Homo sapiens: one gene and its partners. The protein of the gene in region 4 interacts with the protein of the main gene of each other region in a biochemical or structural test. Each region holds a gene or a part of one and is shown on either strand. Other genes may lie near its edges. The genes, in order: CUL4B, RNF7, BIRC3, GLMN, CUL1, FKBP4 and OGT.

Region 1 (3,303 bases), on a different chromosome or scaffold from region 4:
GTACTAAATGTCAGAATTGTATACTTTATCATGGTTAGAATGGTAAATTTTGTGTGTACTTTACCACAATAAAAAATTTAAAAATTAAAGAAAAGTTTTGAAATTAGAGAACAAATGAAGAGGATCTGTTGTTGTTATAGCTGGCAAAACTATTAAGTTCTAACATGCCAGTGCAGCACATTCTTATATTTTACATCCAATAGAAACGGTTTTACAAAAGAAAGGTCAGAGTCTTTTTCACTATGCTAGAGATGACTTCTAAGGATTGTTAAACATAAAGGTACATTATGTGTCCATTCAAAAGAAGAAATACCCTTTTTTATAATAGCAAGGGGAAAAAGGAAAATAATTGAGCAAAGTGTTTGATTTCAACCAAGTGTTTGCAGGTGAACAAACTTCAGTATTCAAATGTAAAGCAGGTGTTTTTTTGTAGGACACTGAAAAATATTCATTAATGAAGCATTAGCAAGATATCATTTTACAAAGCATAATTATGCAAATTTTCATCAGTACTGCTCTTTTCTTTTTAATGAACAATTTGTTTTGGCAATTTTATGTAAATAAGAGAATAGAACACGCTCACAACACTCCTGCCATTCACAGCATTAAACAGAGTGGTCATGAAAACAAAGACCAGCTCATTTTAAAAGATTTATGAATATCCAGATTAAAAAACAAACTTCTCAAATCTTTAGATCCAGATGCCCAGATAAACTGGTTTTCTGAACTGTACACTCACATACACAGCAAAAATTTCAAGAGTATGGCTAGACATCATATTAAGACCATTCAAGCAGACTCAGGAACTGGGTTCAAAAACTTTGAGGAACATCTTACTCTGAGAGTATCTGGCCCAGAACTCAAAAAACTATTAACAGAAAAGGCAGAGCAAATGCCATAACTAAGAGTAATCTTTTCTTCTCCCCTGAACTCAAATCTAGACTCATTTCATATTGACTTTATGAAACAATTTGACACTGAGGATTTGAATGAAGCAATGTTTATACTTGTATCCGCATGTTTAAGAATAATTATCCACCTTGAGGATTCCTGGGAATTTTCCTCACCCTGTTAACCATGCCCTCCCCCATACTCTTATAGCATTACCACAAAACCATTACAAAATTTTTAAAAAGTTTAAAAATAACAAAATCAACAAATGTGAGTTCATTAGAAGTTGTTAGGAAGATTTTAAGTCCTGTGATTTTATAACTTTCTTACAATACTTGAATTTTAAAGATCTTCTCTAGAAACTTTTTTTAAATAAAAGTTTTATTGGAGAAAAATAGAACCACCACGTACACAGGGAAAAGAGCACAAAAATTCAACTGATACAGAACAACAACTGAAAGTCACAATTATCCAATGTAGTTTGCAATTACTTTTCAGTTTCTTAAACAGCTCCCCTCAACTTTTTTTTTTTAACAGTCTTGCTAATTTTTCAGCTGAAACAGCATCAAGTTTTCAAAGAATTAAGAGCCTCGGGGAGGGGACCCGCTTTCAAGATACTGAAGGTGACATCAAGAGTCTCCTCCTAACAGGACCAACTCTATCTAAAAGTTGCTTACGAGTAACTTGAATCTTGTGTAATAGTCTACATCTCACAGACCATCAGGGATGAGTTAGAACACTGTTGTTGATGGTCCGGTATGAAGAGAGGGTAAACAAAATAGCTGCATTTGCTTGTCAGCTGAGCTCATATAAAGAAATCAGTGAGGAGCTGAGAAAATATAGGCAATGGCTGCTCAATAAGAATTACAAGTTCCGAATACCACATATAGTTAGACACCAGTGTGCAAGTTGATGCAACTAGAAAGAAATAGACGACTTTTTAAAATACCTGGCCACAGGTCTTTGAGAACTCAAGCAAACAATCAACAGTAGACACAAGAGTCAAAAATCTTCTCAGGTTGAAGATTAGGACATAGGTAATCTTCCTAACGGCTCCAACAGGCAAGGAAATATGCTGTGGCAAAAAGCATTAAGTAGTTCTGATTTTTAACAAACATAAACAAAATTTTCTGCTTCTCCTCCCTTCAAAGCTTCAAGGAAATAGAAACAAGGAAACAAAATAAAAACAAAAAAAAATCAGTGACAGTAAAGAGAAGCCTTTGCTTGAATTATCAATTCGAAAAACAGTACTTTTGCCATTTTGTATATATAAACAATCTTGGGACATTCTCCTGAAAACTAGGTGTCCAGTGGCTAAGAGAACTCGATTTCAAGCAATTCTGAAAGGAAAACCAGCATGACACAGAATCTCAAATTCCCAAACAGGGGCTCTGTGGGAAAAATGAGGGAGGACCTTTGTATCTAGGGTTTTAGCAAGTTAAAATGAAGATGACAGGAAAGGCTTATTTATCAACAAAGAGAAGAGTTGGGATGCTTCTAAAAAAAACTTTGGTAGAGAAAATAGGAATGCTAAATCCTAGGAAGCCTGTAACAATCTACAATTGGTCCAAGTTGAAGACAAAACTGTCCAAACAACATTTAAAGTCTAAAGTATGTTGAAAACTAGTTGCAAAGTTTTTGCTCCTGTAACAATTTACAAAACACGTTCATTTTGGTCTCTTTTGCAATTTTCTTATTGTATTCATTTTTAATATAAAGAGTTGGATTTTTCTCTTCTATGATGTTCCTCTAGTACAACTGATCATTAATTTTCTACTTTAGCTATTTTTATAAGTACTTGTTAATCAGCACAGTTAACTTGGGGCTAAGCCATATACACACATCCCATACTCATAAATGAAAATTTTTAGGATGTGAATATACAAGATATTATGTAAGCAACTGTCCCCCTACTTGAAAACTTGTTTCCAAATAATTTTTTTTAAAAAACATCCCTTTCAGTGTAACAGAACATCACCTAGTAAAATATCAATAGCTATGACAATTCATTTCTCTTTTCAAGGGAAATCACAAAACGGGTGAACAACCAAGTCAAGGGTGGTTTTTCTATTTGATAAATACATCCAGAACTCTGTACAGTAAATAAAGTTTGCATGCAGTTTAAGTATCTTTAAATGACATTTTAAGCAAATAAACCTTTTGCTTCATAATTAATGGTGTGTAAGAACCCTCCCCCCTTTTTAATAGCCACAGGGATCTCTTTCCCAGTTCCAAAGAGGAATTCATGAAGACCAGGTACGTTCTTAAGTGTTTTCTGCACATCATACTAAATAACATGCAAAGAGTTCAACAACATTCTTCTTAAAGGTAAGTATTACTCTTTAAAATGGGCATGTTAACCACTGAGAAAAAGTCCACTCAACTATTTCCATTAATTACACTGCTTCATTT
Region 2 (3,381 bases), on a different chromosome or scaffold from region 4:
AGACCCAGCCTTGGTCATTTTGGTGTCCCCAGTGCATAACTCCTTGCACAGAGGAGATAGTAATTGTGGGATTGAAGAAAACCTCAGGAGGCAGTGGTTGTTTTTAATCCACACTGAAGAGACTAGGGCAGTGGTGTTTTTTTAAGGGTAAGAGCATGTGGAAAGGAGCAAACAAATGCCTGAGCAGAATCCAGTGTAAGAAGAGAAGCAGGCTTCAACTTAACCGTGTTTCTATTTTTACAGAATTATTTTTCTCCTATTTATGTTAAAAACTATTTTCTGTTGGTTCAAACTTCCTTTTACCCAACTCTGACTCCTCTTCCAGCTAGTGAATGAGTCCATTTTTGCTCCCTAAAATATTCTATATTACTTTTTTCATTAAGCTGATAGTATTCCAGATTGAATTTTGAAAACTTCTAGTACAGCCTTTAGGATCTCATTTTTAGTATTTACACCTACTCCACTATATTAGAAGTTACTATAAGCTCACTGGGCATGCTCATGGGCAGTTTATTTTCAAGGCACCCTTTTAAATAACCCATACATATAATGTTAGTATTTGTTTATATATACATCAAGAAATTCTAGAAGGATACCCAAGAAACCAGTAATAAAGTAATTTATTAAAAGACTTTACCATTGTTGGGTAAATACTTTGGGCTCAGACTTATCTGTATTTTCTTTCTTTCTTTTTTTTTTTAAAAAAACTTTTAGGTTCAGGGCTACAAGTACAGGGTTGTTACATAGATAAACTTGTGTCACAAGGGTTTGTTGCACAGATTATTTCATCACCCAGGTATTGAGCCTAGTACCCATTAGTTATTTTTCCTGATCCTCTCCACCTTCCACCCTCCAAAAGGCCCCAGTGTGTGTTGTTCCCTGCTATGTGGCCATGTGTTCTCATCATTTAGCTCTCAAGCATTTTCTTTTTTTTTTTTTTTTTTTTTGAGACGGAGTCTCGCTCTTTCGCCCAGGCTGGAGTGCAGTGGCGCTATCTCGGCTCACTGCAAGCTCTGCCTCCTGGGTTCACGCCATTCTCCTGCCTCAGCCTCCCGAGTAGCTGGGACTACAGGCGCCCACCACCACGCCCGGCTAATTTTTTGTATTTTTAGTAGAGACGGGGTTTCACCATGTTAGCCAGGATGGTCTCCATCTCCTGACCTCGTGATCCGCCCGCCTCAGCCTCCCAAAGTGCTGGGATTACAGGCGAGCATTTTCTTACAAAGAAAAAACCTTAGTGTTTAGGGATATCTAGTATTTACTTATTTTATCTGTAAAATTCTCACCAGTTTGTATCATCCCCACTTAATATATAAATACCTCACAGTATTGTCCCTTTTTTACAGATGAGGGAATTGGAGTTCGTAATTGGTCCGAGGCCCTGAACCTAATAAATGCCAGTGAAATGGGATTTGACTGTAGATCTGGCTCCACAGCCCTCGCTGTCCCCTCTGTCTCACTGGCTTCTCACCAGCCTTGTCTGGATGACCATCGGTAGCAACCTATTGGAAGCATACAAAGCAGTTTATTTTAGAGGAACTCTCAAGTGTCTTAGGGTAGAAAGTAAAAAGTTGCTTCTTATGAGTTGCTAAAGGAAGGCTTCTGTGTCAGTAAGTATGGATGACTTTAAAAAACTTGTTTATGAAGCAATTTTTTAATTTAATTTTTTATAAGTTATATATTCATATAGTTCAGAAATTGAGGAAGTTATGTATATTACCTGGAAGAGTGAAAACTCTCCTTCCCATTCCAAACCCTCCCAGTAAACTTTATTATTGGTTCCTTGGGTATCCTAGTGTTTCTTGATGTATGTATAAACAAATGCTAACATATATATATGGTTTATTTAAAGGGTGTCTTGAAAATAAACTGTCCATGAGCATGCCCAGTAAGCGTATGGTAACTTTGAATATAGTGGAGTATGGCATATTTTTCTCTAGTAGTTTTCTCTCTTGGCACCGTCAGGACATCTTTTCATCAGAGCTTATAAAAATAGAGGATTTGTTAACCCTTGTGAAATTGCTCCTGGTTATAATTAGTAGAATGCCTTGTACTTTATTCCTCTTTAAGTAGTTATGTTCAGATGAGAAATTAATAGTATGAGTCTTTATTGCCATCCCTAACCCTTAGGGCTTTTGACTTTGAAGTGTCTGGTTTTTAAAAATTGCATTCTGAGCATCAGAATGAGAATCGCTATTTGTTTACTTTTAGATGCCTGTCTTAGATGTCAAGCTGAAAACAAACAAGAGGACTGTGTTGGTATGTTGTAATTTTGTTCTCTTGCTTTTTCAACTGAAGGTTTTCTCTCAGTAGGGATGTTTGAATTTGAAATTAAGATTGACTTTATCAATACACAAAAATAAACTGTAAAGCAGTGATCCATTGTTAATATAAAATATGTTGGTTCTCAAAAGAGTTTAATGGAATGAACCTGCAAGTCCTTTTATTGCCATAATTAAGAAGAATTGGTTATATATTCCAGACATGGTCATAATAAACATTTTGGTAATCAAAAATTAAATATTTTCTATTAAGAAAATTATAAAATCAGAAATTTGTCAAAACATTATTTGAATTTTGGCTATGTTATAGGTCACTTTTGGTTCTAATAAGGCATTTCACTTTTCAATACTCTTATAATACAGTATTTAACTTTAAAACCAGAGTAGAAAAATTCTAAGTCTCAAGTATATTTTTGGAATGTGGTTTGTGTATCAAATTTTCTTTAGAGTCTTAGACTACAAAAGTTGTCGTAGGCTAAATATTTTAGGCAGTTCAAAGATTTTTATGCCCTAGTTCTTGAGGTGATCAAGTCTAGATTGCTATATAAACATGTTTATAGATTTTCTTAGAATAAAAGATTGGCTTTGTATTTTGTGTTTGCATGGTGTACGTAGAACACAAATACATGGTGTACATAGAACTTCTTAATATTGATTCTTGCAGTTTTGATCCAGTTCTTCCTCCTGAAACGCTTAGAATGTTTCACCCTTGCTTCCTACCCCCTGTAGCCAATTTTCATAGGCATTTTTTTCTTTTTTTCTGCCTTATTTCTTTCATTTAATCTTTTTCTCTGCCTTATTTCTTTCATTTAATCTTTTTCTCTTGTCATATAGCTCAGTTGATCAAGCAAGGGACAGATGAATCCCAAATTCGAGATTGCATTCTAGATTGTGGATGATTTCCCTTGTTTTAAAGTTTTTCTTTCATGCTGCTTGTTTAAAAAGTATTAATTTGGGAATTGTGAGGGGCAGGCCACTTTCTTTGATCACAGAGAGACCTCTCTCTCCAGCCAGCCACTTTGAAAATTTCATCGTCACATGAGGAATTGCACTGCTTATGGGTGACTTAACACAATTCATCACTTCTAGAAAACAGCTC
Region 3 (2,710 bases), on a different chromosome or scaffold from region 4:
TATTTATTAAGACATGGTCTTACTATGTTGCCCAGACTGGTCTTGAGCTCCTAGACTCAAACGATCCACCTGCCTTGGCCTCCTAAAGTTCTGGGATTACAGGTGTGAACCACTGCATCTGGTCTTGAATTTTCTTAGTAACATACATAGTGTCTACTATGATGTGCAAGACAACAAAAGGAGGTGACATCTTCTCCAATAGGAGCTGAATATGGTTCAATCACATTGCCTGTGACCACAAAGGAACTTAATGGCTAATGGTATCAAGCGATATAAGGAAATTAAGAGAAAGGTTGGAATGGAAGCTATAATGAGCATGGCTGAAGTATGAAATTAAGCCTGCTGCAAAGTCCTGTATGATCACACTTAATATATTGAGGTTTAAACCCAATGACTGAAGACCACGTTGGCTGGTAGGTGGGGTTGGAGGCAATCAAATGGATTAATGCATGTCAAGCACCTGAAAACATCTGACATTTGGTCAGCAAATAGATCTACCATTATTATCTATGGTGATTTATTTTTTCCAAAACAAAATGTCAAAATAACACTTAGGGAAATAACATATTTGAATAAATGGGTTGGTTATAATAGCTATTTATTACCATAATGAGAAATGAACAAAAGTTTTACAGTGAGATGACAAAGTTCAAATATTATCTGTAGTATACAAGAACTAGATAAAAAAAAAAACACATGGTGCAAAAAGGGTGCCTACTATTTAAATACCCTATACCTGAGTTACAAATCACCTAAGCACAATTACAAATAATTCAGCCTAGCACCCATGCAGGACACTGGCTAGTACATGGGTAGCCAGCAGAGCCTCTTAGCAGAGGCAAAATCAATTGCATTTCAAGGAAATAAGTCTCCCAGCATCAGAATGCAGAGATGGATTCTTTCCTCCCCTCACTTGGTCCCTAATTGTTCTCTTTACAACACTAGCAGATGTTGGGGCTCAGAAAACCCAAAGTGAAGGCCTCAGAAGCAAAGTTTTTCTCTGATGTTATCCTGCCCTCCTGTCTCAGCCTCATTCTCCCTGAAGGCAAGCCACAGAAACTTGAATTCCTCTTCCCCAAGGTAGGTCATAGAAACTGGAACCATCTTTCCACAATGCCAGACTTACATCTTAAAGATAGTACTCTAATCTTTCCTCACCTAACTATGTAAGAGCTGGCCATAAATAAATTCTCTGACCTACCTTGCTTGATAGCAGGTTATAATATCCCCATCCCATACAGGCCCTGCCCTATATCCAGGAGGAAGGAATGCTGCACAGAGACCAAGAATAATCTGAACAGACAGGCCTTGCTGGGTCCCCAACCTGTGTCTATTCCCATTAGATCATATCCTTTTTTTCCAATCACTATTCTTCAGGGCTGTCCATTCATTATCAAACCTAAGCATAAAAATGCACAGTTTCCCCTGTAATTTTGGATCTTCATTACGAAGGCTCCCCGGTGATGTAAATCTGTGATTAAATAAATTTGTTAAGTTTTTCTCTTGTTAACCTGTCTTTTGTTATAGGATTGTCAGCTGTGACCCTTATGAAGGGGTCTTTCCCTTCTGCCCTTACAGAGCCATCTGCCCCTATACAGACATCTAGAACTGGTTTAGATGACTAGCCTTTGCCTGCCTTCCCCTGAGTATTCCCTATTACAGTCTTACTTCTGCTCTTGAAGACCTAATACCTCTATAAGAAGCAAAGGACAGAGTTATGACTCGGACGTGTTGAGTACCAATAACATAATGCAGAGGGGGACATTTTGTTGCACTGACAATATGAAACAGATTTATTTACCAGAACAACCTGTTGGTCCCAAGCATTGCTAACCAGTGTACTTTCTAAGTTTCAGAATTAATACCAAAGAGATAAGAATAAAACTCAGACCTTCTTCCAATAGGTGGGGCTGGCATGAGACTTCTTGAATGAATCAATAGAGAAGTGAATAAACAAACTTACTAAAGGGACTGTTTGATTCTTGTCTCAGGCATTCCATAATAGATTTTATGATGTGTTGACCCCGTGTTCTACAAGTGTCAATGAAGAAGCATCTTATGGGAAGGAGTATAAACTGTAGTTCAATATTTGAGAGGCTTTAAGAAGGTATGGAAAGAGTCTGGGAGTGACTAAACTATCCAATGTCATTGAAATAAAGCAATGAAGAATAAGAGTAATTTTTGTTGCTTTATTAAATTTTTTCTCACAGAATTCTTTATAAAAACACCATGTCCCTAAAATGTCATTCAACATATATGCACACCTTCGATGTATAGGACACTGATCAAAAAAGACAGAGAAATGTGTCCCTGGTGTTTTGTTTTTGTTCTGTTTGTTTTTAAAGGCAGGGTCTCAGTATGCTGCCCAGGATGGATTCAAACTCCTGGGCTCAAGTAATTCTCTTGCCTCAGCCTGGGACTACAGGCACATACCACCACACCTGGCTTCATGTTCCCGGTATTAGTACAATGCCAAAATATTTAAAATTCTTAAAGGTTAACTCAAATATCTTAAGTTTTACTTCACTTACAATTTCAATAATGCTGAAATTTTGATTGAATATTGTGTTTGTAGTGCTACCTCTTTTTCGTTCATAAGAACAAAAGCCTATCATTCTCTTAGTTTCTAAAAAATATATGTTCATATGGTTTAGATACATATATAAATATGTTACACAAAACAATGTTTTTTGAGTTGTAAATAAATAAA
Region 4 (3,500 bases):
GCAAGCTCTGCTTCCTGGGTTCATGTCATTCTCCTGTCTCAGCCCCCCAAGTAGCTGGGGCTACAGGCACCCGCCACCATGCCTGGCTAATTTTTTGCCTTTTTTTTTTTTTTTTTTAGTAGAGATGGGGTTTCACCATGTTAGCCAGGATGGTCTCGATCTCCTGACCTCGTGATCCGCCCACCTCAGCCTCCCAAAGTGCTGGGATTACAGGCGTGAGCCACCGCACCCCGTCTTTTCTTTTCTTTTTTTTTTTTTTTTTAAGCATGGTGGCTCATGCCTGTAATCCCAACACTTTGGGAGGCTGAGGTGGGTGGATCACTTGAGCTCAGGAGTTCAAGACCAGCCTGGGCAACACGGCCAAACCCTGTGTATAAAATACAAAAATTAGCTGGGTCTGGTGGCACACGCTTGTAGCCCCAGCTACTTGGGAGGATGAGTGGGAGGATGGCTTGAGCCTGGGAGGCGAGGTAGCAGTGAGTTGTGATCACACCACTGCAAACCAGCCTGGGTGACAGAGACAGACCCTATCTCAAAAAAATATATAAATAATGAAAAAGCAGATCTAACCCATCTGACAAGAGATTAATAACCAGAATAGAAAAGAAGCTCAAACAACACTAAAGGAAAAAATCTAATAATCCGATTAAAAAATTGGCAAAAGATTTGAATAGACATTTCCCAAAAGGCATACAAATGGCAAACAAGCATATGAAAAGGTACGCATCATTATCATCAGAGAAATGCAAATCAAAACTACAATGGGATATCATCTCACCCCAGTTAAAATGGCTTATATACAAAAGACAGTCAATAACAAATGCTGGCAAGGATGTGGAGAAAAGGAAACCCTCATATATTGTCGCGACATGTATTGTCGCGATCTCAGCTCACTGCAAGCTCCACCTCCTGGGTTCACGTCATTCTCCTGTCTCAGCCTCCCAAGTAGCTGGGGCTACAGGTGCCCGCCACCACTCCCGGCTAATTTTTTGTATTTTTTTTTTTAGATATTGTTGGTAGGAATGTAAATTACTACAACCATTAATGAGAACAGTTTGGCAGTTCCTCAAAAAATACAAAAATAGAGCTACCATATGATCCAGCAATCCCACTGCTGGGTATATACCCAAAAGAAAGGATATCACTATATTGAAGAGATATTTGCACTCCCATGTTCATTGCAGCACTATTTACAATATCTCAGATATGGAAGCAACCTAAGTGTCCATCAACAGATGAATGGATAAAGAAAATGTGGTACACATACACAATGGAGTACTATTTGGCCACAAAAATGAATGACATCCTGTCATTTGCAATAACATGGATGGGACTGTAGACCATTATGTTAAGTGAAAGAAGTCAGGCACAGAAAAACATTGAACGTTCTCACTTTTTTGTGGGATCTGAAAACCAAAACAACTGAACTCACGGACGTAGAGAGTAGGAGGATGGTTACCAGAGGCTGAAAATGGTAGTGGGAGGCAGGGAAGATGGCTAATGGGTACCAAAAAAAAAAAAAAAAGTTATAAGTAATGAATAAGACCTACTATTTGATAGCACAACAGGGTGACTATAGTCAATAACTAATTGTACATTTTAAAGTAAATGAGTATAATTGGTTTGTTTGTAACACAGAGGATAAATGCTTGAGGGGATGGATACCCCATTCTCTATGATATTCTTATTACACATTGCATGTCTATATCAAAACATCTCATGTACCCATCAATATATATGCCTTCTATGTACCCACAAAAATTAGAATTTTTTTAAAAAAAATCTGATCTAGGAAGAAGACAAAATGACACCTATAATACCTCATCTTGACCCCAGTCTTGTAAGATAATAAAAATAGAGTATACGATACAGTAGTCTCCCCACTTATCTGCAGGGGGTACATTCCAGGACCCCCAGTGGATGCCTGAAACCATGAATAGTACCAAACACTATATATAAATACTATACATGCATATCTGTGACAAAGTTTAATTTATGAGATTAACAATAACTACAACAATTATAATATACTGTAATAAATAGTATGTGAATGGTCTCTCACAAAGCAGTAAATAGTAAATCTTTTTATTTTTATTTTTTTTCTTTAATTCAGTCTTATAGGTGAAGATAATAGTAAATCTTGGTCAATTTTGATAGTGTCACCTGGCAAGAAAATTAAATTGTAGTCAGTTTTTTGTTGTTGTTGTTGTTGAGATGGGGTCTCACTGTTTCCCAGGCTGGAGTGCAGTGGTACGATCTTGGCTCACTGCAGCCTCCACCTCCTGGGTTCAAGCAATCCCCCCATCTCAGTCTCCCGAGTAGCTGGGATTACAGGGGCGCACCATCACGCCCAGCTAATTTTTGCATTTTTAGTGGAGACAGGGTTTCACCATGTTGGCCAGGCTGGTCTCGAACTCCTGACCTTAGGTGATCCACCCGCCTCGGCCTCCCAAAGTGCTGGGATTATAGGCATGAACCACTGTGCCCAGCCTGTAGTCAGTTTTGAACATTGTCTTATCAATATCTAAACCTTTGCATTTAGCTGACCACATATTGCAAAGGTGATTCTCAAACTATTAAGACTAAGCCTCACATGTTTAAATCTATCCCATTAGCTATTCAGAAGCATGCTAAAAATAAAACGCTAAGGCATGCAATGCCTGAAAAATACTTTGTTTATACTTCCCTTTTCCTTCTGCCTCACTGATGTGGTGCTGATCCTCATCTCCTTGGCAGGCCTCTTCTCTCTACCTGTTTCTTAAATTCTTCAAGATGGGATCTTGGGCCTCTTCTCTTCTGCCCCTTTTATGTGAACTCAGGTAAATTCTTGTTTTTTTTTTTCACTCCTCAATGCTTCAATTACCCAATCTTTAGGTAATTAAAGTCTCACAGATATGTGTCTCAGAGATCTACATCTTAATTCCTCTATCTCTACTGAGCTCAAAACCTTATTTTCCAATTGACTGCTGTACTTAAACTCAAAATTTCTAAAAGTCAACTCACTTGTTCCTTCAGAAAACTTTTCCCTCTACTTAGGTTGCCTTTTTCTGTTTGATATCATATGTTATCCTTTTAGAGGCTAGAAACCCAGTCATTTTTGATGCCTCTCCCTCTCAATCAAGCAATCCCCTGTATTCTACCCTAAAACCATACGCCATACAGCACTAACCAGAGGTAGAGCAGAGTGGTTAGGAGCTCCAAAACCATGCTACACAGGTCTGAATCTTGGATGTTACATAAAAGCTGACTTACTTTTGGGCAAGTCATTTAACTTTTCAGTTACAAAATGAACACCTACCTTCTGAGATTTTGGAGAGACTAATTAAGTTAATAAATGTAAAGGACTAAAGACAGCATCTGGTACATGTAAACATGCAATAAATATTAGTTGTTATTAATTTTTTTATTATTAGCTGAAAGCTAAGTACTTTAGAAGGTTATCCTGAGAACGCAATTAGAAAAAAATCAAGAAGAGTTTAAAAAACATAAGATTTATTATA
Region 5 (3,500 bases), on a different chromosome or scaffold from region 4:
CATACTGTTCTCATAGTAGTGAATAGTCTCACGAGATCTGATGGTTTTATAAGGGGTTTCCGCTTTTGCTTGGCTCTCATTCTGTCTTGCCTGCCGCCATCTAAGATGTGCCTTCTGCCATGGTTGTGAGGCCTTCCCAGCCACGTGGAACTGTTGAGCCCATTACACTTCCTTTGCTTTATAAATTACCCAGTCTCAGGTAGGTCTTTATCAGCAGTATGAAAACAGACTAATACAGGACCATACTTTGAAAACCAATGGACCAAAAAAACCCCTTTCATTGACTGAAGAAACGTATATTACTGAGGGTGATTTAGTAATTAATTAATTCAGGGTCCTCTCCATGAAGCAGCGTTTCCCAGACTCTAAAGCATGGGAGGGCTAATCCTCAGGGCTCGCCCTCAGGTATGGCACCTGATTTGCCTGGGACTACCAGGACTCAGGACTTTCAGTGCGAAAACTCAGGCAGTTCCAGGCAAACTGTGATGGTAGGGTCAGGTAATTAAAGAAGAAATTTTTAAAAAGCAAATGCAGAAATGGGCAAATTGTATTTTAGAACTCCAATTTACCCATTCTTCTACTTTCTTGCTAAAAAATATTTAAGTGACATTTATTGATAAAACAATGAAAATTAGTTTACTATTCTGAAAAAAGCTTAATATTTGCCTAGATTCTCTTGCTGAAAGACAATTTGCCATTAAAAAAAACAAAAACAAAAACAAATTTAAAACGTTTTAAAACAAAACTCTTACCGAATAGATTTCATATATTCCTTTTCGTCCTTCGTCACATTCACGGCGAACCCAATGTCTATTGAGGTAGGCACAAATTCCATTCAGCACTTTGCTTGAAAATCGATAATCTTCCCATTGTTGAGTGTAGAATTTCAGTACACTCTCATCCATCAAATCTTCTCCATCCTAAAAACAAGTTAACTAAAGCTTTAAGATGACTAATTTGTCACATTATAAATTAAAAATAACGGTGAATAACATCTACTGTATTAAAATACATTGACACATGTGATTTTAGATGGCTTCTTTAAATTATTCTGTATACAAAAACATGCTAATATATATAAACTCACAAGAATATAGTAAAATAATTCTTTCATCTCAAATTAAACTGGAACATTTTTCATGGTATTAAATATGCAAACACACTCAAAAAAAGTACCCTGAACATTTGATATGCGGGTAATTCCTTTTTATTAAGAAATATACCACAAAATCATCTGTATTTTTGATATTTGTTTAAAAAAAAATTGGCTGGGTACAGTGGCTCACACCTCTAATCTCAGCACTTTGGGAGGCCGAGGTGGGCAGATCACTTGAGGTCAGGAGTTCAAGACCAGCCTGGCCAACATGGTGAAACCCTGTCTCTACTAAAAATACAAAAATTAGCCGGGGCGTGGTGGCACATGCCTGTAGTCCCAGCTACTTGGGAGGCTGAGGCAGGGGACTCGCTTGAACCCAGGAGGCGGAGGTTGCAGTGAGCCAAGATCGCACCACTGCACTCTAGCCTGGGCGACAGAGCAAGACTCCGCCGCACCCCTTCCCAAAAAAAAAAGAAATCAACATGTCCTACTTAGCAATTCAGACAATGAGACTAATACTATTCAATTTTTACATGCATCTTCTTCCTTCTTTAAATTTACTTAAAAACCATAAAAACACTTTTTTGTGGTGATCTGTAAAAATAAGGTAAGTACAATAGTATAACAATATTTCAAGAAAATGTGCATTTACGAAAATTATTTTTATCCAGATTTCCACAACTTGAGTCACAAATTTTTATTTGAAGGAGACTAACCGGAATTTTTTTTCTTAGGGATTAATGGCATCTACAAAGTAAACCTTACCCTTTAAAAACGTTAATGGTACTGTATGGCAGCACTGCCATTTAGGTGTGTGCAGCAGAGAAGCACGAAAGAGGAAGGTGGGGGCAGGAGGGCTGCAGGAAGGGCTGGGGCGAGCCCACTGGCTTCTCTGAGCCTCAGTGTCTTCAATGAAAACTAAATGGCTACAACAGACTGGAAGCTCCACATGTATAAGGTACACGAGTGACCAAACAAGCCATGTAAAAACCGGATCATCTCTTGAGACAAATAATTTTTTGTTCATTTAAATTTAAATAATATGAAATGAACTTTAAAATGTAAAGCTAAGCTATTTTGGATGATGGTACTTGACCTTTTTAAAATGCAAAAATATCACTGATGGCATGGTCATCAACCTTTTTACTTAGCACAATATACTGTTTCTTACTTTAGTACTAAAGAATAATTAATTAATTACAACATTCACTTTATGATGTGTTGTGAATAAAAAGAACAGTGGCTTCAGCAAGACCTTAGAAACACCATTTGGGGAAGATGAAAATAATACACTAGTCACAACTTATGGCCAGCCAACTACATACAGTCTGTTAGCAAGATGTTTTAAAGTTTTCAATTAGCTTGCAAAAATAAATTAGGTAAAACAATTTTGCAGCATGCAGAATTTTTGCACATTGTGTAAATAAAAAATATTTAAAATATATACACAGAAGAGTTCCTGCAAATTTCCCTGGGGTCACAGTATAGACGTCTTCACTCTTTGACAGTGTAGAACCAGATGAAGGACCCACTTGCTCATCTTGTGGCTAGATACAAGGAGTCACACTGCCTTTGCTACAAAGGATGAAGACCAAGGAAGAAAAGGCGGGAGATGAAGGGGAAAAGACTCCACCACACTGCCCAACCAAAGGCTTGGAGTGGGAGGGACCTACGCTAGAAGGAAATGGATATTCACAGTGAAACTCATCGTAGTCACGAGCACAATTTCACAGCAGTTTTGAAATACACGTCATGGCCAGGCACTGTGGCTCACACCTGTAATCCCAACACTTCGGGAGGTGGAGGTGGAGGACTGCTTGAGCCCAGGAGTTGGAGACCAGCCTGGGCAACATAAAGAGACCCTGATTCTACAAAAGATTTAAAAATTAGCTGGGAGCTGGGTATGGTGGTACATGCCAGTAGTCCTAGCTACTCAGAAGGCTAAGGCGGGAGGATTGTTTGATCCCAGGAGTTGGAGGCTGCAATGACCTATGATTGCACTACTGCACTCCAGCCTGGGTGACAGAACAAGACCCTGTCTTAAAAAAAAAAAAGGAAAAGAAAAAAAGTACTTCATAACCATGTGTAAAGAGCAAGATCACATTTGAAAAACATGGTTTCCAAGACTGAATAACCTTACAATTATTTCTACACCTTGATAGGGAACACCACATTGGGTTCACAGTAAAATGCAGATAATTTGAATACATATTTGCTTTAAATGAAAAAGTTCATCATTTCTAACAACCAAATCCAAAATGGTTGGTAATTTAACGAAAGCACTATTATGCTAAAAGGTTATCAAAGCTTTCTAATTTTAAAAAACAGAAAGAGCTGGGCACGGTGGTGAGCATTTGCAGAGTCTCAGCTACTCAGGAGGCCGAAGTGGAAGGATCACTTGAGC
Region 6 (3,500 bases), on a different chromosome or scaffold from region 4:
CTGTGATGTGAGGTAAGCCCAGTAAGAAAGCAGTTACACAGGGACTTTTTTAAAAAAGAGATGGTCTCACTCTCTTGCCCAGGCTGGCGTGCAGTGGCACAGTCACAGTTCTCTGCATCCTTGGTGTCTTGGGCTCAAGGGATACTCACACTGGGAGACTTGTACACCCCAATTTTAATCCTGGCTCCAGCATCAGCTGTGTTGTATGACTTGGTGAAAATTTTCACACAGAAATACATCTTCCACCATTATACATTTCTTCTGGAAGGAACTATACAGGCATGTGGCTAAGCAGACAACCACATCGCTGTTGGGAAAGGACTGGAGAGCTCACAGTAGGAGAGAGGGATGAGGGCAGACACGGGCTCTGGCCTGGAGCCAGGATTATCTGGAGGCAGCTCAGCATGACTGGCTTGTGCTGCCTGGCTTCTCCCAGGGCCCCATCATGCCATAGGAGTTAAGGGTCAAAGCATAGTTAGAAAAAAAGCACAAGCCTTTTCCTGTTAAGGCTGAGAAGGAAGCTGGACGTGAACACTCTGCTTTACTCTTAACCTTAATCATGTAAGTTATCTGACAGGAGGAGGTCAGTGACACCAGGAGTTTTACCTTGTTAACAAACCAAAATGCAGATACCTCTGCCAGATCAGAGGTAGGCAGAAGACCAATTCCAACTTCAAAATGAACATGCATGGTGTCCCAGTCTTCTAGATCTTTATACTTTCGTCTTCCTAAGTGTCAGGGAAGAAAACCAGAGGCACTAAAACTGCCAGGTTGCTGGAGGGAGGGAGTGCTGGGAACCTTGGGCGAAGCCATAGACACAAATCCCAGCGGCAGCCTGTGCAGTGCTCAGGAAGCCATGCATGGTGGGGCTGCTTCCTGCCCAACTATGGCATCTACATGAGATGCTCACTTATTTAAGCTCAACTGGAACTAAGTGGGTGACCCCTTGATTGTGCTACTACCCATTATGTACCCACCCATACCCACCACTCCAAGGCTGAACAGAAAGGGTTGTCTGACACCCAGGTTTTATTGTTTCCACTTTATTGCTCAAGCATGGAACTTGAGGCAAGCCTGGACCTTCAGCAACGTGCAGAGAAGAGGCTGAGGGGATTTTGGGACACAACCTGGCCGAGAGGGGAAACTGACAGGGGAAATACCAGAACAGGGAACAGGGGGTGGTCACCATGACACCAGAAGACATCATCAGCCACACCGTCGGGGGTGAGGAAGGGAACAGAGAGAAGAAATGGCATAGCAGTGGTTTTTCCCATGTCCCTAGCACCCACATGGAGGCCACATTTGGAAATGGACTGGGAGAGGGAAAGGATGAGGAAAACGGCTGCCCAGGAGTCTCCCTCTCCACCCTGGGTTCTTATCAGACCTCATCCCTACCACTTGCCTCTTCTACCCTTAGAAAATGGACCTAACAGAGGGAGCAAAATAAATTAACATTCTGATGAATATATATGGATGGACATATGTTCATGTGCAATGGAGGAAGGGAAGAGGGGCTGACACCAGCTAAAATGATTCCCCACCTCAATCCCCCAGCCTACACCTTTCCCCCTTCCCCTAAAGCCACCATCCAACCAGATAGAAAAATAAAGGTCTAATTCACTCAAAATTCTTCAGTTTTTACAAAACTAACAGGGTGGAGTGGGGAGACTGGGGGGCAGGCAGCCGCAGGAGTAGGGCTGGTGGAGAGGGGCTATGCTTCTGTCTCCACCTGAGACTGGCTCCCTGCCGTGTTGCTCTTCTGCTCCTCCTTCATCTCTGTGTCAGTGGGATGGTCTCCTGAGGAAGCCTCTGCCTTGGCCTGCAAGGAAGATGAACAGCAAACGGGCTGACTTCCCAAGTGAAAAAACACACACTTAATTTCCAGCAGAATTACACAGATACACCCATTCTCCTACATCTGTCCTAAAGCTATACCTGTATAGGCCAAGCCTGGTGGCTTATGCCTGTAATCCCAGCACTTTGGGAGGCTGAGGTGGTCAGATTGCTTGAGCCCAGAAGTTTGAGATCAGCCTGGGCAACATGGTGAAACCTCATCTCAACAAAAATTACAAAAATTACCTGGGCGTGGTGGCATGCACCTGTAGTCCCAGCTACTCGGGAGGCTGAGACAAGAGGATCACTTGAGCCCTGGAGGCAGAGGTTACAGTGAACTGAGACTGTGCCACTGCACTCCAGCCTGGGCGGCAGGGCAAGAGACACTGTCTCAAACAAAACAAAACAGAACACTTGTATATGTACAAATTATGAACTCATGAGGTTATTCACTGCAATGCTGTTCTAAGCAGCACTGTCCCGTATGGTAGCCACTACTGTAAGTGGCTAGTTCAAACTCGTGTTTTTAGTGCAAAATATACATTGGATTTTGAAGATGGTTTGAAAAATACACAAATGCAACTAAAATTTAATTCCATTTGTTTTTCACCTTTTTAACATGGTTACCAGAAAATTTTGAATTACATGTGGTTGATACTGTATTTCTACTGGACAGTGCTGGTTTAGAACACTGTTTAAGACTGGCTGGGTGTGGTGGCTCACACCTGTAATCCCACCACTTTGGGAGGCAGGGGTGGGCAGATCACTAAAGTCAGGAGTTCGAGAGCCTGGTCAACATGATGAAACTTCGTCTGTACTAAAAATACAAAAATTAGCCGGGTGTGGTGGCGGGCGCCTGTAATCCCAGCTACTCGGGAGGCCGAGGCAGGAGAATCGCTTGAACCCAGGAGGTGGAGTTTGCAGTGAGCCAAGATCATGCCATTGCACTCCAGCCTGGGCAACAAGAACGAAACTCTGTCTCAGAAAAAGAAAAAAAATAAAACCACTGGAAGACTAAAAAGGGACTGATTGACTAAGACAAGCCATATCCATACAATGGAATACAATGTAAGCCTAAGAAAGAATGTAAAAGTTCTTTAAATACGGATGTAAAATAAGCCTCCAGCTACTATTACGTGAAAAAAGCATAGTATGCGCCAAATCATAGGTGGAGCACGTTGCCTGTGTTAGGGGAAAGGGAGGAAGCAACAGGAACGTCTGCCTGTGCCTTGACGCAATACACTGGACCATCCAAGACCCTGAAGGGGCAGCTGCTTCTGGTGGGGGAGGCAGACTTGACTGTATACTTTGGTACAGTTTGAATTTAACTAAGTGTATTATTTATTTAATCACACACAAAAAGCATCTCGCTTTTCTTTTTTTGAGATGGGGTTTCATTTTGTCACTCAGGCTGGGGTGCAGTGGTGCCATCCTAAGTCACTGAGGTCTCTACCTACTGGGTTCAAGTGATCCTCCCACTTTGGCTCTGCAAAGTGCTGGGATTGCAGGTGTGAGCCACGGCGCCTGGCCCACAAGAAAACATAAATCGGGAATTACACTCAGGGCAACCAACCCAACTTCTGGGGCTTGTGGGTAGGTTTCCCGCACTGATCACAGAACACTGGCCCCAACAGCAGGAACACGTGCTCCTTAATGCTCCAGGGAAA
Region 7 (3,500 bases), on a different chromosome or scaffold from region 4:
TATATACACTGAGTGTCTCAGAAAAGATAGACAAGAAATTAGTTTCATTTGCTACCTCCAAGAGTGCTAACTGGAGGTATTCACTGTATCCATTCAAAAACCAATAAATTTAGAAGCTGGGTGTGGTGGCACACACCTATAGTCCCAGCTACTCTGGAGGCTGAGGCAGGAGGACTGCTTGAGCCCAGGAGTATGAGTACAGCCTGGGCAACATAGCAAGACTCCATCTCTTAAAAAAAAATGTTTTTTAAAGCAATGGATTTTCTAAAAAGGACACGTTTAAACTCTCAAAATTAACTACAAAAATTGTTAATAGATATCATCATGAGAAGTGACTTCGGATCTTTGAACAAACTACTAAATTTAGTTTCAGTTTCCTAACCAAAAAATAAGGGACAGCAAAATATGATCAATGGTTTTTTAACTGTGCTCAAGGGCTGCTTTGATGGGTGAGTGCCCTCTGGGCACATCATCCCACTTTTATTTCTTTTCACTTCAACATTTGCTTTGAGGATATTCAGACTCAGGTTTTAATATCTATTAATACTTCATTACTAGCTTTGTCCCCATGAAAGCCACATAACCCTGAGTCCATGGTTTTTTTTTAATTGATAAAAATCAGAAATAATATCATCTATTTTGAAGAATTATTGTGAGGATTAACTAAGACCAATCATTTAAAGCTGTCAGTAGAGTGTCTGACCACACAGACTTTCAGTAAACGGTAGCTAAAATAAACTATTAGCCATTTCCAGGTTGGTTACAAAACTGAATGTTGACAATGTAACTTGGGAACTTTTTCTAGATTTCTATAACCCCACTATCATTTACCTCTTAAGTTTACATCTACTTTCTCTAACTACATCATAAGTTCTGAGGGAAAGTCTTATGTTTTTGTATCTTTCGGAGATCCTAAACACAGTATGAATTTAAGGTCTGCCAGCTGAGCCTTACTTGTTCCCAGAACACATCTGCAACTTAGACAAAAAAAATTTTTAAACTAATCAAAAGCCCAGTATAAGTAGTATCATCTAAATTCTATGACTTCTAATTACATTGAAAGAGAAGAGAATAGGATATTGAGGAAGAAATTTTGTAGCCTAATTTTCACATCATTCCATATAGTGGCATCTTGTTTCAAACTATTTTATATTACAGATTTTACAGATTAAGACCCATTATCCACCATTCCTTGAAAATCAATTAACTTGCAAACACTTATCAGAATTTATCCAAAGTTAATCACAACAGAAAAAAGTCATGTGCTCTGTACTTTATACGTGTTATTTTAAAATTGATGTAGTTTCTTGCAATAAGAATTTTTATGCTTTTTAATATAACTTGCTAAATAAAACAAATATTTTAGCATAACGCAGACCAGCTAAAAGCAATTTCACCATTTTAAGTACATACGCATTTCTAAACTTTTGACTTTATTCCATGTGAAAACCTACTTTAGTGTCTGAAATATCACACTATGTTTCTTTCTGGGTTTCTAGGAAGGGAAAGTAACCATTAAAATTTTACTCACAGGATTGTACTGAAGAGCAGAGACGTAAGCTTGTACTGCCCCTTCCATGTCACCCGCTGCTACCAAGGCGGCTGCCAGGTTAATATAACCATCGATGAAATCAGGTTTGAGACGCAATGCATGTCGATAATGCTCAATTGCCTCCTGCAACTGCCCTCTTTCCTTGTACACATTCCCCAAATTCGAATAAGCTTCTGCCAGAAGGGGGTTCTGTTTAATTGCCAGAGTGCTAAAGTGAGCAGATCTGGAAAAGGCGACAAGTGTTAATGCATGGGTATGCACGTTACAGAAAAGAAGGTATGGCCCATATGCAACTCAAACAGTTTGAGATCTGTGCTATTGCTCATTATATAATACCTTATCTTTTAACTAGTGCATAGCAAGAAAAATTTGGGAAATCAAAGATTTTCAAAAGTGGAGGTATTCTAGATTTCAAAATGAAAAGCTTTTTCTTATTAAATAAAATTATTGGCTGGGCGCAGTGGCTCACGCCTGTAATCCCAGCACTTTGGGAGGCTGAGGCGGGAGGATCACCTGAGGTCAGGTGTTCGAGACCAGCCTGGCCAATATGGTGAAACCCCGTCTCCACTAAAAATACAAAAATTTAGCCACGCATGATGGCAGGCGCCTGTAATCTCAACTACTCAGGAGGCTGAGGCAGGAGAATCGCTTGAACCCGGGAGGCGGAGGTTGCAGTGAGCTGAGATTGCGCCACTGCACTCCAGCCTGGGTGACAAGAGCAAAACTCCACCTCAAAAAAAAGAAAAAAATTCTAACTAGAGTCTTGTTACAAAACTACCACATTGGCCGGGCGCGGTGGCTGATGTCTGTAATCCCAGCACTTTGGGAAGCCAATGCGAGCAGATCACCTGAGGTCGGGAGTTTGAGACCAGCCTGACCAACATGGAGAAACCCCGTTTCTACTAAAAATACAAAAATTAGCTGGGCGTGGTGGCACATGCCTGTAATCCCAGCTACTCAGGAGGCTGAGGCAGAAGAATCGCTTGAACCCAGGAGGCAGAGTTGCAGTGAGCCGAGATGGCGCCGCTGCACTCCAGCCTAGGCAACAAGAGCGAAACTCCGTCTCAAAAAAAAAAAAAAAAAAAAAAACCCACCACATTGGAAATCATGATCATTAAGATAAAAAATGGAAAGCTATGTGCACGAGTCTCATTTTCCATTTAAGATTTAATGATGCACATCTTTAAGTGTCTAAATATGCCAGAATAACAATTATTAAAAGGACAGGAACACAAATTCTTCCCTTTTGATTAATTCAACTGATTAACTAAAAGCAACACACCATAACAACTTAATGAAACTCCAGGTATGCATCTCCTGCCACAGCATACATAACCATCATTTCTGAGCATTTCAGTCCCTCAAACTGACAGGTCTCATGAAAGGGAGACTGGATGCTCAGATATACATTGATAATAATTTATTACCTGAACAGAGTCTAGAAAGCAGCAGACCCAGATAGAAAAATCTAGAAAAGGTCCCTAGTCATACTGATAATATAACCACCACCACAAAAGGAAGGAGAAAAACTGGCAGCTGGGCATGTCACAAGTGGGCAAGAGAGCAGATGTGCGTTGGCGGCTCAGTTGAAACCCGGTACTGGAAAAATTTCAAGTTCAAATATTTAAGTATCATTTTTCAAGCTCAGCACCCAGAGGCAGCAATCACGAGCAGGTACCCCAACATCTCCTACCTGTCCAGCCTTCGACACTGGAAGTGTATAGATGAAAGTAATAAAAGCACACCAGTATTGTCTGGCTCTTGTCTCCAGAGCTGCATGCAGTGTCTCTCAGCTGCCTCAAAATCTCCTGCCTGATATTCTCGATGTGCCAACTCAGCTAACCCTTGGAAGGAAAGCATACGTTTCGTTGGTTCTGGAGAATCATCAAAACATTTGAGGGAAGGAGGGGGGAAAACAAAAAGTTAGAAATGTAAACCAAAAAAATGT

The links.
Region 1: the proteins of GLMN (region 4) and CUL4B form a complex in vitro, tested with the Homo sapiens proteins (one study listed by BioGRID).
Region 2: the proteins of GLMN (region 4) and RNF7 form a complex in vitro, tested with the Homo sapiens proteins (one study listed by BioGRID).
Region 3: the proteins of GLMN (region 4) and BIRC3 form a complex in vitro, tested with the Homo sapiens proteins (one study listed by BioGRID).
Region 5: the proteins of GLMN (region 4) and CUL1 form a complex in vitro, tested with the Homo sapiens proteins (one study listed by BioGRID).
Region 6: the proteins of GLMN (region 4) and FKBP4 form a complex in vitro, tested with the Homo sapiens proteins (2 studies listed by BioGRID).
Region 7: the proteins of GLMN (region 4) and OGT form a complex in vitro, tested with the Homo sapiens proteins (one large-scale study listed by BioGRID).

The regions. Positions count from the first base shown.
Region 1 is NC_000023.11:120,523,358-120,526,660, forward strand, and holds the end of CUL4B (cullin-4B), read right to left. Parts: 3' UTR 501-3,303; downstream 1-500.
Region 2 is NC_000003.12:141,741,298-141,744,678, forward strand, and holds part of RNF7 (RING-box protein 2), read left to right. Parts: intron 1-1,346; exon of another isoform or gene 1,347-1,610; intron 1,611-2,211; coding exon 2,212-2,259; exon of another isoform or gene 2,260-2,260; intron 2,261-3,381. UniProt on the Homo sapiens protein: Catalytic component of multiple cullin-5-RING E3 ubiquitin-protein ligase complexes (ECS complexes), which mediate the ubiquitination and subsequent proteasomal degradation of target proteins.
Region 3 is NC_000011.10:102,337,194-102,339,903, reverse strand, and holds the end of BIRC3 (baculoviral IAP repeat-containing protein 3), read right to left. Parts: 3' UTR 501-2,710; downstream 1-500. UniProt on the Homo sapiens protein: Multi-functional protein which regulates not only caspases and apoptosis, but also modulates inflammatory signaling and immunity, mitogenic kinase signaling and cell proliferation, as well as cell invasion and metastasis.
Region 4 is NC_000001.11:92,292,488-92,295,987, forward strand, and holds part of GLMN (glomulin), read right to left. Parts: intron 1-3,500.
Region 5 is NC_000007.14:148,754,403-148,757,902, reverse strand, and holds part of CUL1 (cullin-1), read right to left. Parts: intron 921-3,500; coding exon 753-920; intron 1-752. UniProt on the Homo sapiens protein: Core component of multiple cullin-RING-based SCF (SKP1-CUL1-F-box protein) E3 ubiquitin-protein ligase complexes, which mediate the ubiquitination of proteins involved in cell cycle progression, signal transduction and transcription.
Region 6 is NC_000012.12:2,801,470-2,804,969, reverse strand, and holds part of FKBP4 (peptidyl-prolyl cis-trans isomerase FKBP4), read right to left. Parts: intron 1,820-3,500; coding exon 1,712-1,819; 3' UTR 1-1,711. UniProt on the Homo sapiens protein: Immunophilin protein with PPIase and co-chaperone activities. Component of steroid receptors heterocomplexes through interaction with heat-shock protein 90 (HSP90).
Region 7 is NC_000023.11:71,536,104-71,539,603, reverse strand, and holds part of OGT (UDP-N-acetylglucosamine--peptide N-acetylglucosaminyltransferase 110 kDa subunit), read right to left. Parts: intron 3,427-3,500; coding exon 3,246-3,426; intron 1,776-3,245; coding exon 1,532-1,775; intron 1-1,531. UniProt on the Homo sapiens protein: Catalyzes the transfer of a single N-acetylglucosamine from UDP-GlcNAc to a serine or threonine residue in cytoplasmic and nuclear proteins resulting in their modification with a beta-linked N-acetylglucosamine (O-GlcNAc).